3 linked regions of the Homo sapiens genome follow. The protein of the gene in region 2 interacts with the protein of the main gene of each other region in a biochemical or structural test. Each region holds a gene or a part of one and is shown on either strand. Other genes may lie near its edges.

Region 1 (8,067 bases), on a different chromosome or scaffold from region 2:
AAGGCGGGGCGTGGTGGCTCACGCTTGTAATCCCAGCACTTTGGGAGGCCGAGGCGGGTGGATCACCAGTTCAGGAGATCACGACCATCCTGGCTAACACGGTAAAACCCTGTCTCTACTGAAAAATAGAAAAAATTAGCCGGGCGTGGTGGCGGGCGCCTGTAGTCCCAGCTATTCCGGAGGCTGAGGCAGGAGAATGGCGTAAACCCGGGAGGCGGAGCTTGCAGTGAGCCAAGATCGTGCCACTGGGCGACAGAGCGAGACTCTGTCTCAAAAATAAATAAATAAATAAAAAGAAAATCCAAGATGAGTGGTTTCGAACTATGCCAGATTCTATGTGTGCGTGTGTGTGGTTCCCTGTTCTTCTGTTCCTTGTAGCTTTGGTAATTAATTGTGGATCTGTGCCTGGGCTTTCAGGGTCAGTAAATGGATTTACCATTTCTTTGCACATTTATGGCTTCCATATGGGCAGGGGTTTATGGTTTGTTGTTGTTCACCGTTGCATTTCTAGAGCCCAGAACGATGCCTGGCACATAGTAGGTGTTCAGTAAATATTTGTTCTGCAGTGGGGCACAAGTGGTGGAGTTCCTGGGTGTACTGGGCTCCTTTATCATCTTAAGGAGTTCCTTATTCTCTGCATAATACCTTCCTAAGAATTAGAAGAGCAAGCTCTCAGCAGGTGCTGTTCTATGCGCTTTGCATATATAATCTCAGTTAATCCTCACGGCAAAACCCCACGAGGTGCGGTTTAATCTTCCCTTTTCACAAGTGAGAAAACTTCGCTTGAGGCCAGCAGGCAGCAGGGCTGGGATTGCAATCTAGCTAGTGTGGCTGCAGAGCAATGGTTTCTTAACAAATCTTTGTTCTTTTGAGTCCGAGCCTCCGTACCCCCCACGATTGGGGTGATGGTGAACAAAATCCTGTCAAATAAATGGGCTGTGATGCCTCTTGAAGGCTTGGGGAGGGGCAAAGAACTTTTCAGATCATTAATCTCTAATGTCAACCAATATGGCTTTTTTTTTTTTGAGACGGAGTCTTGCTCTGTCACCCAGGCTGGAGTGCAGTGGCACGATCTCAGCTCACTGCAACCTCCACCTCCCAGGTTCAAGGGATTCTCCTGCCTCAGCCTCCCCAGTAGCTGGGATTACAGGCGTGTTCCACAACACCGGCTTATTTTTTGTATTTTTAGTAGAGACAGGGCTTTGCTGTGTTAGCCAGGATGGTCTCGACCTCCTGATCTTGTGATCCACCCGCCTCGGCCTCCCAAAGTGTTGGGATTACAGGAGTGAGCCACCGTACCTGGCCTTTTTTTTTTTCTTTTTTTTTTTTGAGACAGGGTGTCACTCTGTCACCCGGGCTGGAGTGCAGTGACACGATCTTTGCGACCTCCGCCTTTCAGGTTCAAGTGCATCTCCTGCCTCAGCCTCCTGAGTAGCTGGGATTACAGTCGTGTATCACCACCCTTGGCTAATTTTTGTATTTTTAGTAGAGATGGGATTTCGCCATATTGGTTAGGCTGGTCTCAAACTTCTGACCTCAAGTGATCTGCCTGCCTCGGCCTTCCAAAGACCTGGGATTATAGGTGTGAGCCATCACTCCGGGCCCAATATGGCATTTTGATTGGGATGAAGGGTGGAGGAAAATCAGTGTGATTTTTGTATCTATCTCTCTAGCTATCTATTATTTTTTGAGATGAGGTCTTGCTCTGTTGCTTAGGCTGGAGTGCAGTTGGGCAATGATGGCTCACTGCAGCCTCGACCTCCTGGACGCAAGCCATCCTCCTATTTTAGCCTCCGTAGTAGCTGGGACCACAGGCACACGCCACCCTGCCTGGCTAATTTTTACTTTAATGTGTAGAGCTGAAGTCTTGCTATTTTGTCCAGGCTGGTCTCAAACTCCTGGCCTCAAGCGATCTGCCTGCCTTGGCCTCCCGAAGTGCTGGGATCACAGGCATGAGCCACGGTGTCTGGCCTCTGCAGTTATTCTTATTCTTTGCTTCTCTCCTGGAGACCTGCTTCTTGCCCTTCCCCATTCATGCATAGAGACCACAGGGTGTGGGCTGAGTCCCCAGGGCTCCCCACCTCACCCCACTCTACCCTTGACTTCCATTCCTCTTTGGTTTAAGCAGAACTCTCAATCTTGGCACTGCTGACATTTGGGGCTGGATCATTCCTGGTGGTGGGGGCTGTCCTGTATGTAGAGTGTTGAGCTGGAACCATGGTCTCCACCCATGTGGTCCTGGGAGGATCCCCTTCCCCCCAGGCATGACAACCACTAATGTCTCCAGACATTGCCAGGCACGTCTCTGCAGGAGTTAACCTTTTCCCTGTCTGAGACATTTACCCATCTGGGCTCTTGCTCTTTCTCCTCTCTTTGTTCAATAATCCTCGGCCGGGTGCAGTGGCTCACGCCTGTAATCCCAACACCTTGGGAGGCTGAGGTGGGCGGATCCCCTGAGGTCAGGAGTTTGAGACCACCCTGGCCAACATGGTGAAACCCCATCTCTACTAAAAATGCAAAAATTAGCCAGGTGTGGTGGCGGGTCCTTGTAATCCTAGCTACTTGGGAGGCTGAGGCAGGAGAATCGCTTGAACCTGGGAGGCAGAGCTTGCAGTGAGCCGAGATCACACCATTGCATTCTAGCCTGGGCAACAGAGAGAGACTCTGTCTCAAAAAAAAAAAAAAAAAAGAAAAGAAAAAAGAATCTTCATTTACCCACGTGCTTTTTCAGCCTCTAAACACCCAGTACCCCCCAATCCCCATTACCTACCACTGACCTCCAGCCTCCACCCTGTCCAGCTTCCCCAGGCCAGTCCTCCCTGCCCTTTCCATCTCACTCTTTTCTCACTGTTCTGCCCCCAGCATCTGGCTTGCATCTCCGCTGCTTTACCGATGGCTCTCGAAGTTAATCTCTCATCTCCCAGTTGCGTCTCCTGCAGCCTCACCTCACTTGACCCCTCTGGGTTTGACATTGCCAGTCCCCCCTCCTGGAAGGCTGTGTCTCCCGTCTCACCTGTGCCTAAGTTCTTCTGTTTTACTGTTCTCTTCTCCTTCTACCTGGGCTAAGATGTTGGCTCTCTCTTCCCAGAGGGTCAGTGTTTCCTTTAATCTTCTCTCAGCTCACTTTTTTTTTTTTTTTTTTTTCACTTCTTCACCCGGGCTGGTGTGCAATGGCATGATCTTGGCTCACTACAACCTCCGTCTCCTGGGTTCAAGCAATGGTCCTGCCTCAGCCTCTCCAGTAGCTGGAATTACAGGCATGTGCCACCCCGCCTGGCTAGTTTTTGTACTTTTAGTAGAGACAGAGTTTCACCCCATTGGCCAGGCTGGTCCCAAACTCCTGACCTCAAGAGATCCACCTACCTCAGCCTCCCAGAGTGCTGGGATTACGGGCATGAGCCACCGTGTCCGGCCCTTTTTTTTTTTTTTTTTTTTTCCAATTTTTATTTCTTTTTAGAGACAGGATTTTGCTCTGTCACCCAGGCTGGAGTGCAGAGGTTTAGTCCTAGCTTACTGCAGCCTCCAAGTCATGGCCTGGAGCAGTCCTCCCACCTAGGTTCCCCAAGTAGCTGGAATCACAGGCAGGTGCCACCATGCCCAGCTAATTGAAAAATTTGTTTGTAGAGACAGAGTCTCACTATGTTGCCCAGGCTGGTCTTGATTTCCTGGCCTCAAGTGAGCCTCCTGCCTTGGCCTTCTGAGAAACTAGGATCACAGGCAGGCACCACCATGACTAGCTAATTTTTAAAATTTATTTGTAGAGACAGAGTCTAGCTATGTTGCCCATGCTGGTCTTGAATTCCTGGCCTCAAGCAACCTGCTTGCCTCCGCCTCCTGGGTACCTGGGCTCACAGACAGTCACCACCATGCCTGGCTAATTAAAACTTTTTTTTTTTTTTTGTAGAAACAGGGTCTTGCTATGTTGCCTAGGCTGGTCTTGAACTCCTAGTTCAAGCAGTCTTCCCTCCTGGGCCTCCCAAGTGCTGGGATTATAGGCATGAGGAACCATTGCGCCCAGCTAAGAAATTTACATAGATTCCGACTTCTTCATCTGAACAGGGGTCAGCAAACTATGGCCCTCAGGCCAAATCCCACGGTTTTTGTAAATGCAGTTTTATTGGCATGCAACCACACTCATTTGTCTACTCATCATCTATGACTGCGCAAAAATGCCCCGACACGGCAGGTTGAGTAGTTAAAACAGGAATTCCATGGCCAAAATATTTACACTTTGGCCCTTTACAGAACAGCGTTTGCTGACCTCTGATCTGGAACAGACGCCTTGAGGTTTCATTCATGATAGCATGCCTAATAGCTTGTGCAGTCCCTGGTACAACTCGAATGAAGTGAGTGAAATGAAACGCTATGTCTTTCTCTTTACACCGCAAGAGATGTTAAAGAAACGTGTGTCATTTGCTGCACTGAATATACGGATTCCAAGGATGAGAAAAATCACCGTGATGTTGCCTACTTAGCCATGTGTATTTATTTAAACAGCTATATTGGCATTGAATGAGGATTTCATGCTCTCAACCCTGTATCTAGAACCCAAAATATAACTGGTGTATATAATGAGATTTTTTTTTTTTCTCTCAGGCCTCTCTTGTGTTAATTTCTGTTAAGAATACTTCTGGGCCAGGTGTGGTGGCTCACGCCTGTAATCCCAAGCACTTTGGGAGGCCGAGGTGGGTGGATCACTTGAGGTCAGGAGTTCGAGACCAGCCTGACCAACATGGTGAAACCCCATCTTTACTGAAAAAATACAAAATTAGCCAGGCGTGGTGGCGCATGCCTGTAATCCCAGCTAGTTGGGAGGCTGAGGCAGGAGAATCGCTTGAACCTGGGAGGTGGAGGTTGCAGTGAGCCGAGATTGCGCCACTGCACTCTAGCCTGGGTGACAGAGCGAAACTCCATCTCAAAAAAAAAAAAAAAAAAGAATATTTTTGGCCAGGTGCAGTGGCTCATGCCTGCAATCCCAGCACTCTGGGAGGCTGAGGTGGGAGGATTACATGTGTCCAGGAGTTTCAGATCAGCCTGGACAACACAGCAAGACCCTGTCTCCACTAACAATAAAACAAAAATTAGCTGGGCATGGTGGCATGTGTCTGTAGTCCCAGCTACTTGGGAGGCTGAGATGGGAGGACCTCTTGAGGCTGGAAGGGCAAGGCTGCAGTGAGCTGTGATTGTACCACTGCACTCCAGCCTGGGCAACAGTGAGATCCTCTCTCTGTCTCAAACAAAAAAAGAATACTTCTTGGGGTGGCCTGGTTGATATTTTGCAGCTGCATGGTATTTACAGTTTTTAATTAAATAGTGACGGGTAATGCATTCTCATTGCAAAAAGAAAAATTACAAAAGTGTAGAAAGGAAAAAAAAAACACAGAAGTCCTTCTGCAAAATCTTGTGGTGGGGTGCAGTGGCTCACACCTGTAATCCCTGGACTTTTTAGGAAGCTGAGGTGGGAGGAACACTTGAAGCCAGCAGTTTGAGACCAGCCTGGGCAACATAATGAGACATTATCTCTAGAAAAAGTTTAAAAATTAGCTGAGCATGGTGGTGTGTACCGGTAGTCCCAGCTACTCAGGAGGCTGAGGTGGGAGGATCGCTTGAGCCCAGAAGGTTGAGGCTACAGTAAGCCATATTCATGCCACTGCACTCCAACCTGGGTGATAGAGCCCGACCCTGTCTCAAAAAGAAAAGAAATAATAAAAAAAAATCTTGTCCCCCTGTCCCCAAAAGCATTCCATTCATGTCCAGGGAGGTAACTGTGCCATTGGTTTATGTATCTTTTTGATGTTTAGTAATTTTTTAGGCTAGGTGTCATGGGGCCACTCCTGTAATCCCAGCACTTTGGGAGGCCGAAGCAGGTGGATCTCTTGAGCCCAGGAGTTCAAGACCAGCCTGGGTAACATAGCAAGACCCCGTCTCTACAAAACCCTACAAAAAAATTATCCAGATACAGTGGTGAGCACCTGTGGTCCCAGCTACTAGGGAGGCTGAGGTGGGAGGATCACCTGAGCCTGGGAAGTCGAGGCGCCAGTGAGCTGTGATTGCACCACTGCATCCAGCCTGGGTGACATAGTGAGACTGTGTAACAACAACAACAACAAAATATTTTAAACATTATCATACAGTAAAATTGGCTTTTTAAAGGTGTACCATTTTATGATTTTTAAGCCATGTGTAGAGTTGTATGGCTATTGCCACAATTAGGATAGAGAACAGTCTCGTTGTTGTCCAAACTCCCTCAATTCACCCCTTTATCACTAAACCACCTCCACCCCTAACCACAGATCTGTTCTCCATCCCTATAGTTTTCTCTAGACTTTAAAAGATTTTATCTTATAATTGGATTAATATTCCTAAAGTTGAAATTTTAAATTTGAGTCTGGTTGATCCTCATCATTCCCAGATCCCATATTTTCTTTTTAAAATTTAAAATTTAAATTTTTATTTTGAGAGGCAGGTTCTTGCTCTGATACCCAGGCTGGAGTGCAGTGGTGTGGTCCTAATTCCCTGCAGCCTCCAACTCTTGAGCATCAACGATCCTCCTGCCTCAGCCTCCTGAGTAGCTGGGACTACAGGCACACACCACCATGCTCAGCTAGTTTTTATTGTTATTTATTTATTTATTTATTTTTGAGACGGAGTCTCACTAACTCTGTTGCCCAGGCCAGACTGCAGTGGTGTGATCTGGGTTCACTGCAACCTCTGCTTCCTGGGCTCAAGCAACTCTCCTGCCTCAGCCTTTCTAGTAGCTGGGGTTACAGGCACGCCACCATGCCCGGCTAGTTTTTTTTATTTTTAGTAGAGATGGGGTTTTACCATGTTGGTCAGGCTGGTCTCAAACTCCTGGCTTCAAGTGATCCGCCCACTTCAGCCTCCCAAAGTGCTGGGATTACAGGCGCGAGCCACTGTGCCCGGCCTAATTTTTAACTTTTCAGCAGGGATAAGGGCTCGCTATGTTGCCCAGGCTGGTCTCGAACTCCTGGCCTCAAGTGATCCTCCCATCTTGACTTCCTAAAGTACTGGGATTACAGGCATGAGCCACTGCACCTGGCCCCAGACCCTGTATTTTTGAATTCACCTACTCACTCAAATGTATTTGTAACCCTCAAACCAGCATGCTCAGTGCCTTTCTGGTCATTTTAGGACACTCATAAGTACGAGTCTCAAATGTGAGGTCAAGTAAGAGGGCATTCCACCTTCTTGCTTCAGCCCTTATGCGTCAGATTCATACAATCTGCACACTGAGGATTAAAACTAGTCCTTTTTGAGCAGGCGCAGTGGCTCATGCCCAGCGCTTTGGGAGTCCGAGGCGAGTGGATCACGAGGTCAGGAGATCGAGACCATCCTGGCTAACATGGTGAAACCCTGTCTCTACTAAAAATACAAAAAATTAGCCAGGTGTGGTGGCGGGCGCCTGTAGTCCGAGCTACTCCGGAGGCTGAGGCAGGAGAATCACTTGGACCCAGGAGGTGGAGGTTGCAGTGAGCCGAGATTGTGCCTCTGCACTCCAGCCTGGGTGACAGGGTGAGACTCAAAACAAAAAACAACAACAAAAAAACCTGAGTCCTTTTTGTGGTTATTTGGTGCCACATTTTTAGCATTTTTGTGCTTTCAGTTGGTGATGGGGCTGTTTCAAATGCCCCCCAGGGTGCTGAAGCCCTGCTCTCTACTCTTCCTTGGCTAAGGAGGGCTGTCACCACCCTTGTGGAGAAAAGGCAGCGTGGCGGGGCACGGTGGCTCACATCTGCAATCCCAGCACTTTGGGAGGTTGAGGCAGGTGGATCACTTGAGGCCAGAGTTTGAGACCAGCCTGGGCAACATGGTGAAACCCCATCTCTACTAAAAATACAAAAATTAGCTGGGCGTGATGGCGCACACCTGTAATCTCAGCTACCTGGGAGGCTAAGGCACAAGAATTGCTCGAGCCTAGGAGGTGAAGGTTGCAGTGAGCCAAGGCGGTGCCACTGCACTCCAGCCTGGGCAACAGAGTGAGACCCTGTCTCAAAAAAAACCCAAAAAAACAAAAAAACTCCAAAACCAACACACACACACAAAGGC
Region 2 (8,067 bases):
TTCTGTCAGATTAAATAACTTGGCACATCTGGTAGTGGGCATGGCCATGCATCACGTGCAGAACTGGTGTGATGGACCATATTTTCTCATATTTCACAGAATTCACTGGCTGGGCATGATCCACAAAGTCCTAACCCATCCCAAACCCTGGAACCCTTTCCATGACGGTTTATTCTGATTTGTTCAGGAGACACATTTCTTCTGTTTTCATGTGGAATGGGCTTTGTTCCTCTCACGGCCGGCAGAGGTTAAATTAAAGGGGCCAGAAAATGCTGAGCTGTGACTAGGATTGGGGGGCCAGTAGGCATTTATTGGCCCCGTTTGCTTCTTTCTTCCCTTTTTTTCTCTGCCTCCTCGGTCAGGGGGTCCAGGACTATCTCTCCAGGGGCATTTCTGGTCTGTGGAGACTTGCCTGAAGGCAGCTGGAAGAGTCTGGGCTGAACTCTAGATGCCTCAGGCTCAAATCTCATATTAGTGAGGGAAGAAAATTCTAAATGTGTAAATGGTACCTGTAAGTCACCTACAAATAATTTTTTTCCTTTCCTGTGCAGTGTCTGGGAGCCAGCTTCTGAGTGTTGTCAAGGTAGTCCTGGTGGCTTGAGACTGGTGATGTGCCGTTGCCAACAATGGCTGTGTAATTCTGAGCAGTTGTTCAGCACTCAAGTGGGATGAGAATGGCAAGGAGTGCTCTGGGTGGCTTTTGACAAGGGACCCCGCCTGTCATTCACTCAACAGGTGTTTGAGGAGCCAGTCTGTCTCCGTCATCTGTTCCTGCCTTACTTAGATGGAAAATAATGAAATCTGTGTAGGAAGGGAGGGTGAGTAGAGGGATGGCCTGTGTTGACTGAACAATAAAATAGTGATGTTAATATATTTTGCTTATTTATTTTCTTAAAGGGAGCTGGCACGTTTCAGTTCTGATACAAGTTAAATATTAACAATGTCTGAAAATACCACAACTTAAACTTTAATATGCATGGGAATCTCCTGGGGCTGATAATAAAATGCAGCTTCTAATTTAGTTGGTCTTGGTTGGGACCTGAGGTTTTGGGTTTCTGACCAGCTCCCAGGTGTTATGCTTGCAGTTGGTCAGTGGCCCACACTTTGTGCAGTAAGGTCTTAATGCATTTCCCCCTGTGTTCACTTTAGTGTCTTTTTCTCTAGAAATTCTCTGAAGAGGACACTTTACCTGGTAAGAACTATTATTAATAATGCTATTACTTAATCTAAGAATTTTTGTACCAAGAATTTTCTAGTGATTAGCCCTACATTGTTGTAAATGACATTCTTAAATGTGTCCATACTTTATTCCAGGGGCAAATATTTGTACAGTGTCCTGCTTTGACATTTGTTTGGATTCCTGTGGATTTTATTTAGTGGTTTCTCTTTTGTTTATGATGATAGAACACTTTTAGAAAGGTTTGAAACCTTTTGAATCTTGAGCGGATTTGGAAGCCCCACCTGCCTTCTTTTAAGAATGTAGGAATTGTATCTGCTTTGAGCTTGTGCATGCTAACACCCCACTTCTTCCAAGGTCCTTGCTCAGTGCCTTCATGTCTCAGCATCACAGCCTGGAACCTGGAAGGCCTCCAAGCCATAGAAAGAAGCAATAAAGATGTCCCAGTGGGGCTTCTGGCTGGGGCCCTTGCCTGTTTCTGTCAGCGTTAGCCCGACCCTACCCTTGGAGGTAGGGTTGGGTTGTCCCATTATTTCCCTGTCAGGGTAGGTGGTATTAAAGCAGCTTTTGTCTTGCTTGCACTGTGAGTCTGTTCTGTGTATAAGGCTCCACTGTGTGGATCACCTCTACTTAATGCCACCTTTTGAAAAATTCTACCACCAAAGTTCTTCCTTGGATAGCAAAGACATTTTTGAATGTTTGTATTTGTGCCTGCCCTAGTTGATCAGTAAATGCATTGATGGGCTCCATGGGACTTTGGACCCATTCCTTTGTCATCTTTCATTAACAGTCTTCCTAGGCTGGTGGTGATGTTGGGCAACTTAATGCTTCCTGAAGGTTTTAGATACTACAGGAGCTAATAATTTATTGCCAAATAAGTGAGGAAACTTTGGATTAGATAAAGTTGGTTTCTTTATGGCACAACATTTCAGAAAATTTTGTGTGCCACAATGTATTATGACACTTTAAGAGGAAGATGGCTAGACTATGGTGGTTCCAAATTTTGGGGGGTCGGGGTGGAGTTAGAACCCCTCTTGTGCTGATTATTTCATTAGGCTAGTTTTTTCTTTCTTTAGTTCCGGGATACATGTGTAGAACGTGCAGGTTTGCTACATAGGTATACGTGTACCATGGTGGTTTGCTACATCTATCAACCTGTCATCTAGATTTTAAGCCCCCCAAGCATTAACTATTTGTCCTGATGTTTTCCCTCCCCTCAGTCCCTCTCCCCTCCCTGACAGGCCCTGGTGTGTGTTATTCCCCTCCCTGTGTCCATGTGCTCTCATTGTTTAGCTCCCACTTATGAGTGAGAACATGCAGTGTTTGGTTTTCTGTTCCTGTGTTAGTTTGTTGAGGATGATGGCTTCCAGCTTCATCCATGTCCCTGCAAAGGACATGATCTCATTCCTTTTTGTGGCTGCATAGTATTCCACGGTGTATATGTACCACATTTTCTTTATCCAGTCTATCATTAATGGGCATTTGGGTTGGTTCCATGTCTTTGCTTTTGTAAGTAGTGCTGCAATAAACATAGGTGTGCATGTATCTTTATGGGCTAGTTTTTTCATACAGTCCTCTCTTAAAAAAAAAAGCTGTATTGAGGTATAATTCACATACCATACAATTTACTCATTTAAATTTGAAGTATATAATTCAATTATAATTAGTATATTTACAGATATGTGCAATGGTGTGTGTGTGTGTGTGTGTGTGTGTGTGTATACAGATTGCTGTGGTCTGAATGTATCACCCAAAATTCATGTGTTGAAACCTAATGGCCAACGTGATGTTATTAAGAGGTGGGGCCTTTAGGAGGTGTTTAAGTCATAAGAGTGGACATAGATGGGATTAGGGCCCTTTTAAAAGGGCCTGAGGGGGAATGGGTTTGCTCTCTTCTGCTCTTCCACCATATGAGGATACAGCATTTGTTCCCCTCTGGAGGGTGTGGCAACAAGGCACCATCTTGGAAGCAGAGAGAGGCCCTCACCAGACACTGAACCCCAGTGCCTTGATCTTGGACTTCCTCTCTTCCAGAACCATGAGAAGTAAATTTCTATTATTTATAAATTACCTAACCTGTGGATTTTGTTATAGCAGCACAGACAGAAATTGATACTGAGAGTGGGTGTTGTTATAGCAAATACTTAAAAGAAAAGTGGAATTGGGTAATGGGTAGAGGATGGAACAGTTTGGAAGTGTTTGCTAGAAAAAGCCTAAATTTCTGTGAACAGAGCATTAAGAATGATTCTGGTGAGGGCCCAGAAGAAGAGGAGAGCCGTAGAGATAACCAGTGTCTTCTTAGAAACTTCTAAGTGGCTGTGATCAGAATGCTGGTAGTATTATAGACAGTAAAGCCCGTTCTGCTGTGGTCGTATATGGAAATGAATATCTTATTGGAAACTGGAGGAAAGACAGTCCTTGCTACAAAGGCGCAAAGAACTTGGCTGAATTGTGCCCATACTCTAGGGCTTTGGGGAAGGCAGAATTTAAGAGTGACAACCTAGGATATTTGGTGGAAGAAATCCGTGAGCATAGTATTCAGTATGCTGCATGACTTCTCTTAATTGCTTACAGTAAAATGTGAGAGAAATGAATTGAAAATGGAATTTATAATCCAAAGGGAAGCAGAGGCTGGGCACTATGGCTCATGCCTGTAATCCCAGCACTTTGAGAGGCCAAGGTGAGAGGATTGCTTAAGCTCAGGAGTTCAAGACCAGCCTGGGCAATATAATGAGACCTTATCTCTACTAAAAGTAAAAAAAAAAAAAAATTAGCGGAGTGTGGTGGTGTGCACTTAGCCCCAGCTACTCAAGGGGACTGAAGTGGGAAGATCACTTGAGTCTGGGAGGTCAAGGCTACAGTGAGCCATGATTCTGCTGCTGCGCTCTAGCCTGCGTGACAGAATGAGACCCTGTTTCCAAAAAAGAAAAGGAAGCAGAATTTAAGGATATGGAAAATTTTTAGCTTGCCCAGGTTGTAAAAACATGTTTGGGAGAAAACACTAAGGGTGTGGCCAAGTGACCTTTTGATAAGGAGATTAGTATGGATAGAAGGAAGCCAGATGCTATTCATCAAGATAATGGAAGAATGATCCTGAAGGCATTTCAGAGATTATCAGTGCTGCCCCTCCCATCAGAGGCCCAGAGTACCAAGGCCCAGGGAACAGAACTTATGTCAAAGGAGAGGCCTTGGGCGTCTGCAGGACCTCAGCATTCACTGCCTGGCATCACTTCTCTGCTCTCTGCATTACAGTGCAGCCCTCCTTGGATATCCCAGCTGTAGCTCAAGGGGGCTCAAGTGCAGCTAGTTCCATTGCTGTGGAAGGCACAGGGCATAAGCCTAGGTGGCATCCACATGGCGCTAAGTCTGCAAGTATGCAGAGTGCAAGAGCTGTGGATGCATGGCTACCTTCACCTAGATTTGAAAGGATGCCTCAGAGAGTCTTGGGCTCAGACAGAGAATTGCTGCAGGATAGGTCTGCTGCAGAGACTCCCTGCTAGGATAATGCCTAATAGAGCCATGGGGCAGGAGTGCCAAAAAGAGCCCCCACTAGGGCAATGTCCAGCAGAGTCTTGAGGCTGGGGGCACACTAGCGAGCTCCCACAAGGACAATGCCTAATGGAGCTGTGGGGGTGGGGCTGCCCTCGAGAGCCTGTAACTGTAGAGTTACCCGTGTGTAGTGCCAGCCTGGGAGAGCTGCAGGTACCCAACTGCAACCTGTGAGAGCTGCTATGAGGGCTGTGCCCAGCAGTTGGCTGCAGGGCTGCCCAGGTCCTTGGGAACCCAACTCCTGCCCCATTGTGTCTGGAAGGCAGGACATGGAACCAAAGATTTATTCTCCAGCCTTACCATTGATTTAATGTTTGTCCTGTTTGGTTTTGGATTTGGTTGGGAAATGTTACCTCTTTTTTCTTTCCTATTTCTCCCTTTTGTAATGGGAATGTCTGTTCTTTGTCTGTTCCACTGTTTTTTTTTGTTTTTTTTTTTTGGAGACAGGATCTCACTGTGTCATTCAGGCTGGAGTACAGTGGTGTGATCTCGGCTCACTGCAACCTCTGCCTCCTGGGCTCAAGCTATCTTCCCACTTCAGCCTGCTGAGTAGCTGGGACTACAGGCGTGTGCCATCACGCCCAGCTAGTTTTTTTTTTTGTTTTGTTTTGTTTTTGGTATTAGAGATGGGGTTTTGCCATGTTGCCCAGGCTGGTCTCGACCTCCTGGGCTCAAGAAGTCCGGCCGCCTCAACCTCCGACAGTGCTGAGATTACAGGAGTGAGCCACTGCTGAAGTCTGAAGTACTTTGCCTCAGGTTGAAACACATCTTTGAGTCTCACATGTCTGATTTAGATGAAATTTTAGACTTCAGACTTTTGAATTGATCCTGGCCTGAGATAAGACATTGGGGCTATTGGGATGGAATGAATGTATTTTGTATGTGAGAAAGACATAAATTTGGGGGACTTGGGGTGGAATGCCATGGTTTGAATGTTTGTGTCTCCTTATGGCCTTATCACTTCCCCAACGCAACTCTATTAAGAGGTATGGCTTTTGGGAAGTGATAAGGTCATGAGGGCTCCAGTCCCATGAATGGATTCTTGCCCCCATCAAAGGGCTGGAGAGAACTAGCTAGGATCCCCTTTTTGCACTTCTGCATTCTGCCATGTGAGGGCACAGCAAGAAGGCCCTCACCAGACACCAAGTGCTGGCATCTTGATCTTGAACTTCCCAGCTTCTAGAACTGTGAGAAATAGATTTTGTTCTTTATAAGTTATCCAGTCTCAAGTATTTTGTTATAACTGCAGAAATGAATAAACACACACACATACATTGTATATAGTGTTCAATTAATATATTCACAGCTATGTGCAACCGCCACCATAGTCAATTTTAGAACAAAAAGAGACCCTGCACCCTTTAGCTATCATACCCCCACTCCCTGCCATCCCATTGCTCCCCCTGCTTTCCCAACCCTAAGGAACTCTACTTTCTGTCTGCATAGATTTCCCTGTCCAGGACATTTCATGTGAATAGAATCGTCTGTGGTTTTTGTGAGTGTCTTCTTTCACTTAGCATAATGTTTTCATGGTTAATCTATGTTGTAGCATGCATTAGTACTTCATTCCTTTTTATGGCTGAATAATATTCCCTTGTATGTGTAGTCCCAGCTGCTTGGGAGGTTGAGGCAGGAGAATGGCATGAACCCGGGAGGCGGAGCTTGCAGTGAGCTGAGATCACGCCACTGCACTCCAGCCTGGGTGATAGAGCGAGACTTCGTCTCAAAATAAATAAATAAATAAACAAACAAATAAATTCCCTTGTATGTATATACTACTTTTTGTTTATTCAACTGTTGATGGACATTTATGTTTCTACCTTTTGGGTATTGTGAATAATGCTTCTGTAAACATTGGTGTATAACTATCTTTGAGTACTTGCTTTCCATGTTTTTGTATATATGTCTAGATTATAATTGCTTCATTATATGGTAATTCTATGCTTAGCTTTTTGAGGAACTGCCAAACTGTTTTCTAGAGCAGCTGCACCATTTTACATTCCCAATAATAATGCACAAGGGTTTCAGTTTCTCCACATTCTTGCCAACACTTGGCATTTTTCGTTTCCTGTCCTCTCCTCTCCTCTCCTCTCCCCTCCCCTCCCCTCCCCTCCCCTGCCTTCCCCTCCCCTGCCTTCCCCTCCCCTCCCTTCCCCTTTCTCCCCTTCCCCTTCCCTTCCCCGTCCCCTTCCCCTTCCCCTTCCCTTCCCCTTCCCTTCCCATTCCGCTTCCTCTTCCCTTGCCTTTCTTCCCCTTCCCCTTCCCCTTTCTTTCCTTATAGCTGTCCTAATAGGTGTTACATCGTTTGGCTGTGTCCCAAATCTCATCTTGAATTGTAGCTCCCATAATTTCCACATGCTATGGGAGGGACCTGGTGGGAGGTAATTGAATCACGGGGTTGGGTCTTTCCCATGCTATTCTAGTGATAGTGAATAAGTCTCATGAGATCTGATGGTTTTATAAAGGGGAGTTTCTCTGCACAAGTTCTCTTCTCTTGTCTGCCACCATGTGAGACATGCCTTTCACCTTCTGTCATGATTTTGAGGCCTCCTCAGCCACGTGGAAATATGAGTCCATTAAACTTCTTTCTTTTGTAAATTGCCCAGTTCTCTGATATGTCTTTATCAGCAGCATGAAAACGGACTAATACAAGGCATCAGATGATTGCTCATTGTGGTTTTGATTTGCTTTTTGTTACTCAGTTGTAGGAATTTATATATTCTAGATATTAATACTCTTATCAGTTATGTGATACGCAACTGTTTTGTCCTTTTCTGCAGGCTGTCTTTTCACTGTCTTCGTAGTGTCCTATGACGCACAAAAATTTTTAATTTTTGATGAAGTTCATTTATTTTATTCTTTTGTTGCCTGTGCTGTTGGTGTCATATCTGAGTAGTCATTGTCAAATCCAATGTCCATATAAAGATTTTTGCATATGTTTTCTTCTAAGAGTTTAACAGATAATTTTATTTCTTCCTTTCCAATTTGGATGGCTTTCATTTCTTTTTCTTACTTAATTGCTCTGGCTAGAGCTTCCAATACTGTGTTAAGTAGAAGTGACAAAAGCAAGAATTCTGTCTTGTTTCCACTCTTTGGGGAAAAGCTTTCACTATTTCGCCATTGAGTATGATGTTTGCTGTGGAATTTATAACAGACATTAACAGATATTTAATTCCCTTGCCTTGGTGGAATGTTTCGGGAATGATTCTGTATTCTTTGACTGTCCTGGGACTCTTGCATCGAGAATGTGGTCTAGAAGACCAGAACGAGGTGGCTGGGGAGTTGGGAGACACAAGTAACATGATTTTGTTTTATGTTATAGTGTGGCGTCAGTTCACCTT
Region 3 (8,907 bases), on a different chromosome or scaffold from region 2:
TAGGTTTTGCAATGGCAATGGTGAGCTTAATTTTTCATTGACCTTACCTCCAGCTAATAACGAATCGGGGGGCGCTCTTTCACTCACAGAAGCAAAAAGGAAAAGAAAGGGCTTCCTAGTGACGAGATAATTTGTCAGAAAGTTATGAGTGGGCACGGCAGGGCTGTATAGGAAGTGTGTATTGAACAATACGACACACTGGCTTCTAATTGCTGCTGCCTTTCTGATCAATAATACATGTTTTCAAAAAGCCTTCTGCTTGCATTTACACAATGGACTGTAACTACTGCAAAGATCCATTAAGGCCTATTTTAAAAAGCGCATTCGTAAAAAGTTGTCTAAATCTGCATTACAAGGCAGATTATGAAACTGCCTTGGGAGATGTTTTGTCTAAAAAGCATTCAGCCTGTATCTGCTGGACAGCTGACTCGAGCTTCCACTCTCCACGTTGCTTGGAGCCAGGATGCCTTCTCCAGAGGATGCACCAAGCAAGGCACCGGCAGGCCTGAGGTCCTGTCCACAGACCAGCCGGCCTCTGAGCCCCTCGGGCTGGGGCTGCCTTATGTGAGCCAATCCCCCAGGAGCCTGGGTGGCCGCAGACATTAATCAACCCACCACTCCCGAATGTGTAATTCAAGGTCAGATAAGTGGTCCTCTGCGGCAAATAGGACTCTGGGGACCCAGGTCCCTCCAGCACTGAGAAGGCTTCTGGTTGCATGGGGAGGGCTCAAAGCCTGTGGCCAAGCCAGGATGCAGAAGACAGGTGTGTGCTCTAGCAAGCCAGTCTCGTTGACCACCAGCCCCACACAGCACACAGGTGCGTGCTGTCACCTGTGCAGGTGGGAAGCCCGGACTGTTTGGGTCCAGGGCCCCCTGGCTTTCTATGCCACCCTAGCACCATCCAGTGACTGCTTGGGCCTCATGGCCTCAGCTCCTACAGCTGACAGGACAGAGGCTGATGACAGCGGCAGCTCGTGCTGATGGCCAGCGTCCCTGGGCTAAGGACTCTGTGCAGACTGACTGTCTGCATCCCCGGGGAACTTGGGGAGAAGGAGCTCTGCCTTCCCACTGAGGCACGGAGACTCTGGGTAACCCGCCAAGGACATGGGGACAAGAGACAGAGCGCAGACACACTCAGAGCCCCCTGCAGCCTTCCCACCATGCTACTGCCCCAGGCCACACCTAGACAGCCCCCTGTAGGAGAGAAAACCCTGGCAGAGGGGCAGGAAACACTGCCACTGTCTGCTGAGCCCACTGATGCATCATTGGGCTTTACCCTCAAGGCAGTGCCCATGTTATTGCTCTCATGTCACAGAGGATGACACCGAGGCCCAGAGAGGACCACAGAAGCTGCTGAGTGGTGTGGCTAGCCTGGCTCTGGTGCTGAGCGAAAAGGATGGAGATTCCTCCAAGGGAAGGGGAGGAGAAGACGGGCAGAGGGGAAAGAAGAAAGGAGGGCGAGGGAAGGAAATTCACAAGAGAACAAAGTGTGGGGACATGGAAAACTGAAGTGGGCAAAGTGATAATGATAGGTTAGTGGGAGTAGGTGGGCAGGCTGGTGGGAGGAGGTGGGCTTTCTCTGAACCCCCCAGGGTCTCTGATGGATATGTAGGCCCCTGTTGCTTTTGTTCGGGCACCCGGCTCCTAATCAGGCCCCAGGGAGGATGCAAAAGGGGTCTTCTCCCAGGCCAGGTTGAGGGCTCTTCTGCAAACACCCCTGAGGGCACCTGAGGCCCACAGGCAGGCAGGACCTGCACAGTTAGGTAAAGCCTGTCCTGCACAGCCACACCCTGCAGGCCCAGGCCAGGTGTTCTGTGAGCATGCTCATGGAAGCAGCATATTTGGCATAGGGTGGGCTGGCTGAGCAGCCCCTCTGAGTGCCCTGAGAGCTAGCTGGTGGTCACTGGCTTCCTCCTCGCAGCTGCCCTGGAGGGCACCAACAGCAAGGCCAGGGAGGCAAACCGTGGGGAGCAGTAGACCTGCCCCTCACCTCAATAGCCCGATGGGGGAGCAGAGGGCAGTGGCAGACAGATGGGAAACTGAGGCACCGACCACTTTGCTAACAGTGCACACAGCCAGCCTCAGAGTCTGTGCTTCCAACCACCATGTCACACTGCCCATGGGAGGGACCTGGACCCCTGCCCACGCCCACTCTGAGAGGCCTCGGTCAGCAGTTCCAGGAATGCCACCCAGCCTTCCAGTATCACCAGGACCGAGCTGCGCTCTTGAATGTGTTTCCCCCTACCTGCAAGTCACGAGGCACCCCCAGAGCCAGAGTTTCCTGTCACTGCACTCAGCCTCACTCCAACCATGCTTCTCAGTGCAGGCAGAGACCCCCATGTCACCTGGGTCAGAGGACACAGAGCATCCCGCCCGCCTCCCGCCAGGCAAACCTGCACAGGCATGGCCCAGATCTCTGTCCATGATGGGTTTCCCTCCTCCCTCCCTTCCCTGTGCTGCGTTTTGGTGCTTTGGGGTCAGACCTGAGGTGCTCCAGGTAATCTTCACCTGCTCAGAAGCAATGAATGACCTCCAAGTTCTCACATGCTACAGGAAGATGGTGTGAGCCGCCTGCCCACTGAGCATCTTACCCTGCACTGGGGCAGAGCCTTGAAAATACCATCTCCTCACAGTCACCAGGGAAGGACACTGTTTCAGTCCCCATTTGAGAGATGACAAAACTGAAGCTGAGGAGTAATGTATGCAATGTCACACAACTATGAATGGCAAAATTCAAACTCAGGTCTAATCACTCCAAGCAGATGCCTGCACCAGAACCTCTTGGGGAATTTTTTTTTTTTTCTTAGAGATAGCGTCTCACTGTGCTGCCCAGGCTGGTCTCGAACTCCTGGCCTCAAGTGATCTTCTTGCCTTGGCCTCCCAAAGTACTGGGATTACAGGTGTGAGCCCTTAGCCTGGCCCCTGAACTTTTTTTTTAACATGGATTTTTAGGGAGTGGGGGACCCAGGATGTGTGTCTTCATAAAAGCTGCCCTGAAGATTCTCCAAGGGGACCTGCGGGCAGGGACAGGAAGCACTGACCACACTGTGATGTGCCCTCCTCCAGCTCCCAGAGAGCCCGCGACCCTCAGCAGGGCAGTGTGGCCAGGGTGCCCGAGCCCAGGCCCAGGAAGGCCCAATGGCTACAACTTATTAAGGGCTTCCTGTTTGTCGGGCACTGGGCTCTACCCTCACATGCACCCCTCTTTCTAGTTTCACCCCTTCTTCTGAAAGGGAGATGTTTATAGCTGGGGAAACTGAGGCTCAGAGAGATGACTAAGGGGAGTCAAGAAAGAGAGGCAGAGCCCCCTGCAGGCCCTCCCCACCCCATGGACTGAGAGAAGCCAGGGCCAGGACTCCTGGGCAGCCAAAGACCGGCACGTCTGCTTTGCACTTCACCTGGCCCCCACCTCCCCTTGTGAGACCTCAGGGGGTGGCCTCGCTTCCCCTCTGCTGGGCAAGGAGCTCCTTCCTGCTGCCTGATGTTCTGGATACTGAGCCTACACCCAGGCAGGGCTGAATCTCCTTTCCCCGCAGTCCCTGAGGCCAGCAGGCTCTGGGCCTCACAACTGTCCTCTGCTGAGCGACCCTTTGGTCAGATCCCTGGGCGTGCACGTAGCAGGGAGGTATGCATCTGTGTGCGTGTGTGTCCACGTATGGGAACACAGGTGTATGCATGTATGCATGTGTACAGGGTACACCCATGTGAGGGCCCCCCAGACCTTTTTCCAAGGAGTAAATGACACCCTCTCATAGTGTCAGGTGTTCACTCAGGACCCCCAAGGGTGAGGGTGGAGCGAGAGCGTGGAAAGGCCTAAGGTAGGCTAGGCAGGAGCACAGCCCCAGATGGCCCCTTAAGATGGCCACACAGAGCCCAGCCAGACATCAATGTCAGCCAAGGGCTGGCCAGGGTGGTCCCCGGGAGGTGCAGGGGTGGGGCTATTTAAGCCTACCCACTTCTCTCTTCATTCACCTAGGAGGCAATCACAGGAGCTTGTCTGTAGCCAAAAGATGCCCCCAGCCCCTCCCTACCTATCAGGTCCCTTCCCTGGGCACAGGCCTGAGTGTGTAGCCTAGGTAGCCACTGGCACCAGAGATGGAACCTGTCTGAACCCAAGGGAGCCCCTTGTGGCCAACTCTAGCTCCATAAACTGGAAGGGTGTGGCAGGCAGCCGGAGTCCAGTGGCCCACAGTGTCTCTCCTGGGCTGGCAGGCCTGTGCCCCGGCCACCTGCCCCTCAGCAAGCCAGGTCTGGACATCACGGTTGGCTGAGTGCAAGCCAGCCTCTGTCTTGGCAGCTCCCCCTCCTGCCTGTGAGGGTGACTTCACTTTGACTTCATATCTGCAGTGATGTGCAGATCACTTATTCAGCCCTGAGCTCAGCCAGGCAAGAGGGCGGGGTTCTGCACACAGCAAGCAAGGGAGCGGCTGGCTCAAGGGTGCCCTGGGCCCAGGTTCCCTGGCTTTTCCTCCTCAAGGGCCCATGGGCTTCCCTTCTTCCATCCCTCTGCGCCTAAGTGCAGGCCAGACCTCAAAAAGCAGCCGGGGATGGGGCGAGAACAGAGGACTTCCCCACTGAGCCCACATCCAACCTCACCCAGAACCCCTTCTCAGGTCCAGTTGCTGCTCCCTATTAGGGGTAAATGTGTTTATGCGCATCATTTCCATCATTTCTTTGGGGGAAAATTGGATTCTTTCCTCCTCCTCGCTACTCGCTCTCCGACTCTGCCAGCCCATCTCCTGAGAGTTCTCCTGTGTAAGGGATGCAAGGGCCACCAGCACCAGGTCTCTGAAAGGACGCCGGAGCCAGTTTCCGGTTTCCAAGGGTTGGACCAGTGCTGGAGGGGGGAATCACAAACTGCCCTTCCAGGACCCTACCCTCTCTACTACCCCAGGATGCTGAAAAAGGCTATTCTGCCTCTCTTCCCCTGCTCAGCTCTTCCCCGCCTCCTGCCTCCGGCCCCAGCAGAGGCCGCGCTCCCACTGCGCCTCTCGCCTCTGAGAAATGGCGCAGCAAGCGCTCCGCGGAGAGCCTGGAGGCGGGGCGCCCTTCTCTGAGTCCGCGGGGTCGCACCCCGAGCCAGTCGGCCAGACCTGCATCCCGCGTAGCATCCCTGCCCTCTCTGTGCAGCGGAAAGGGCAAAAGGCAGGGACTGCAAGCGGGCGCGCACCGGGTAGGAAGAGCGGCTCTGCGTAGGTGCGCGGACCCGGGCTCCTGGGTTCCATCCCCGCCGCGCACCTCGGGGTCCGCACCCGGCTCCTGCCGGGCCCTTTTCGGCCGCACCCCGCTCCCGCACCCCGCTCCTCCCCAAGCCCCACCCGGCCCAAGCCGCGCGTCCCGCACTGAGCTCCTACACGCGCCGCGCCCCGGCCGCACCCCGCGCAGCCAGAGCAAGCACTGGAGCCCCGCCCCTTCCCGCACCCCACCCGCCTCCGGCCCCGCCTGGCCCACCCCTGGACCGCCCCCGCCCCGCCCCGCCCCTACCCGCTCCTCCGGCGCAGCCGGCGCTTACCTCGCTTCAGTCCCGCGACCGAAGCAGGGCGCGCAGCAGCGCTGAGTGCCCCGGAACGTGCGTCGCGCCCCCAGTGTCCGTCGCGTCCGCCGCGCCCCGGGCGGGGATGGGGCGGCCAGACTGAGCGCCGCACCCGCCATCCAGACCCGCCGGCCCTAGCCGCAGTCCCTCCAGCCGTGGCCCCAGCGCGCACGGGCGATGGCGAAGGCGACGTCCGGTGCCGCGGGGCTGCGTCTGCTGTTGCTGCTGCTGCTGCCGCTGCTAGGCAAAGGTGAGTTCTGCCGGCCGCCGGCTCCCGCAGGGGCCAGGGCGAAGTTGGCGCCGAGCAGCGGAGCGGGCGCGTTCAGAAGCGCCTTTCTGTTTGCCGTGGGCAGCGGGCTGTGCGGTCGCCGGCCACCCGGCCTCGGCTGGGAGCGCAGTGGCTGCGGCGGGCGGCGGGCGAAGGGCAGGACGCCTCGGGCCGGGCGCCTCGGGCCGGGGCTGGGCGGGTCTCGGGCGGGAGCGGAGCGCGGGCCGGGCCGCGGGGGTCGGTGCTCAGAACCCTAGCCATAGCCGCAGGTCTCAATCTGGCCGCGCCCTGCGCCAAAGCCGCGTCCTGGAGCAAACGGGACAGCCGTTTCGGGGCCGACCTGGCGGACGGGTCAGGGAGCCCCGAAAGCCCGCGATTCGTGCGGAGAGTTCTGTTTCGGCAGGAGACGGCTCCGTCCTGGTTTCCTTTTCCCGCTCAGCGTCCGTGCGTTCCTCCCCCAGCTCTGCCGTCCTGGCCAGCCGAGGGATTCGGAGGCTCTTTTGAAAAGATTGCTTTTCCCTCGTGCGTTTTTGCCGCCCTGTCTTTAAACACCTAAAAACCGTGGTTTCTGGGGTGGCTCCCCCCGAGGGGCCGCCGTGATAGGCGTCCCACCCGGCAGCCCTGGAGTCGTGTGGCGCTGCCTGGCAGAGATGCTGAAGATGCGGCCATAGGAGGCCCAGGGCTTGGGGTGGGGCAGGGGTTTGCGCCGCCAGCCAGCGTTGGTGCTGGGCCTGGTGAAACCTCAGGTGCCTTAGGATCCCAGCATTAGGTGTGGCCTTGCAAAGATGGTCATCGACCCCACCCAAACTCTGGCAGAGTGAGCCGCAAGGCTGTGGAATCTTTGACCCCTTGGCACGCGTTTAAGTGTCCCTCAAACTGGCCCTGACTTGATCCCCTCCAAGCGCTTGTGTATGAACCAAGTTTCCCTCTAAGAGGGAAGGAGCCCTGGCCATCCTCCCTCACTCCTTACAAAGGGCTTTCTCTCCCCACAGCCTTTGGGAACAGAAGAAGCCATGGTCAGTCACCCTGTCTCTGGCCCCAGGCCCTGCACAAACTGAGTTTCCAGGCCTGCCTGAGACTTCATTTGTGTGACCTGCGCCTCAGCTCAGCATATGCTGAGGCCAGAGCGGGTCCCCAGTCCACCTAGCGAGGGACAGGGGAGAAGCCCTTGCCTTTCTATCTTTTCTGAGTGTTAGGACTTTGGGGTCCCAGTGCTGCAGGGGGAAGACACGGGGCAGAAGCAAACAAGGCGCTCTGACGCTGTCTTGGGATTCTGGGCTGTGGCTTTGGCTTTGAGGTTGTGGGCAGGGGGCCAGGTGTGAACTGCTGCTGGTGTGCTGGGCAGAGGACTTCCCCACACCCTTCCACAGCCTTGCGTTCAGTTGGGGTGGCCAGTGAGGCTGTGGGGGCCAGGCTCTGGGGGCCGGCTTGTGGCACTCAGCAGGCATGCAGGTAGCTTTCCGTGCCCAGACCCCTGGCCCACAGACAGCTTCCCGAATCCAGAGATGGTGAGCCCCTAGCCCCTGGGATAACCCGGACACCACAGTTGGAGGCACTGGGAGTGAAGAGGCAGCCCCACTCCCTGGAGTAGACAGCTGGGGCCTTTGAAGAGGCTGCAGAGCTCTTTCCCAGGAGCCACAGCTCCGGAGGTTCGAGCCGCACTCTTGGAGCTGCCAAGGACCGCCCCAGTGAGCCCCTCGGTGCTCCCCAACCACCCCAAGGGGACAGCTCGGCCTCAAGCGCCCTCTTGCGGACGCTGCACTTTAGTGGCTGGGCCTGATGACAGGCACAGACTGGGTCTCTAGAGGATGAGGGTTCTTCCACAGCTCACACATGCACACTCACACTGGATCACCAAGACACACTCCTGCCCCTTCTCACAGCACTTGCTGCCAAGGCTGTGGACATGCACAGCGTGGTTCCTTCACACCCTGCCTCACCCACGTCCACACAGGGACCCCAGCCCCTCTCATCACTCATACACACAGGGACGCCACGTGTGTATATAGGGACACACACTCCTCATACCTGCAGGGCATAGCCTGTCAGCCCCAGGTATGCTGGAACCAGAGTGAGAGAACCTCCATCTAAAAGTTACATTCATTTAAAAGTTGCTCTTAAAGGTTTCTGGCATTTCATTGCTCAACACAGATACAGCTGTCCCCGTTGCTTGGATGAGGAAACTGAGTCTCAGCTTCTGGGGTTCCCCCCAGGTCCCAGGCTGACCCTGCACCTCAACCTCCCACAGCTCCTCAGCAAGCCTCTTGTCTCTTGTCTTCCTGGCCTGACTTCTTGGGTCCTGTTTTGCAGCAAGGAAGGACATTCCCTCTCTGCCCCTGGGCCCCGGGGCCTTCTGTTCCCAGCATGGAAGAGCTGGGCACTGTGACTTGGCAGGGCCCGGATCCAAGCTGCCAGACCACCCTCTGCAGAGGGCCTAGGCAGCCCACCCCTGCCTGAAGCACCAGGTATCAGCGCGGGCAGCTCAGGCCAGGGGTACAGCTCCCCCTGCTTCATCCTTTTCCTTCTCCCCTTTCTCTGGCCAGAGGCTTCACCAGGTTCACCTGGGCCTGGCTTGCTTCCTCCTCCACTCCAGCTCACTAACCCTGTCTGGCCTCCAGAAGCTGCCTGCAGCCCTCACTGGTGGGCTGTGCCTGCTGGGGGCCTGCAAGCAGAGAGCAAATGGGGAAGTGCATTGAGCTGATTCACTAAATTGCCTTTCTTCTGCAGAATCACTTTAGGGACAGGCTGAGGAAATCACTGTTTCCTTGGTGGTGTGAAGAAAATGGGATGCGATCACCTAGCGGGGAGCTAATAGCCTTTTAGCCAGTGGAGGAGAAAACCAATTAAAAATTATGATATCTGTTAAAATGGAACCTGGGGTGCCAAGGGGAAGGGAAGGCCCGGAAGCTGCCATCTCCCCTGAGACCTTCCCCCTCTGCAGCCTGGCCGAAGACCCTCTAGGTCCCCTCGTCTTAACTGGATAAGGCTAATACCAGCAGTAGCACCCCATGGGGGCTCACAGTGCACTGCCCCTGTGCTGTGCCTACTCACTTCATCTTTTCCAACAAGTCTGCAAGGGTCATGGTCTTGGCCCATTTCACAGGTG

Evidence for each region.
Region 1: the proteins of GRB10 (region 2) and INSR form a complex in vitro, tested with the Homo sapiens proteins (5 studies listed by BioGRID and IntAct).
Region 3: the proteins of GRB10 (region 2) and RET form a complex in vitro, tested with the Homo sapiens proteins (2 studies listed by BioGRID).

Annotation. Positions count from the first base shown.
Region 1 is NC_000019.10:7,284,028-7,292,094, reverse strand, and holds part of INSR (insulin receptor isoform Long preproprotein), read left to right. Parts: intron 1-8,067. UniProt on the Homo sapiens protein: Receptor tyrosine kinase which mediates the pleiotropic actions of insulin.
Region 2 is NC_000007.14:50,772,260-50,780,326, reverse strand, and holds part of GRB10 (growth factor receptor-bound protein 10), read left to right. Parts: intron 1-5,166; exon of another isoform or gene 5,167-8,067.
Region 3 is NC_000010.11:43,071,549-43,080,455, forward strand, and holds the start of RET (proto-oncogene tyrosine-protein kinase receptor Ret isoform a precursor), read left to right. Parts: upstream 1-5,520; 5' UTR 5,521-5,710; coding exon 5,711-5,783; intron 5,784-8,907. UniProt on the Homo sapiens protein: Receptor tyrosine-protein kinase involved in numerous cellular mechanisms including cell proliferation, neuronal navigation, cell migration, and cell differentiation in response to glia cell line-derived growth family factors (GDNF, NRTN, ARTN, PSPN and GDF15).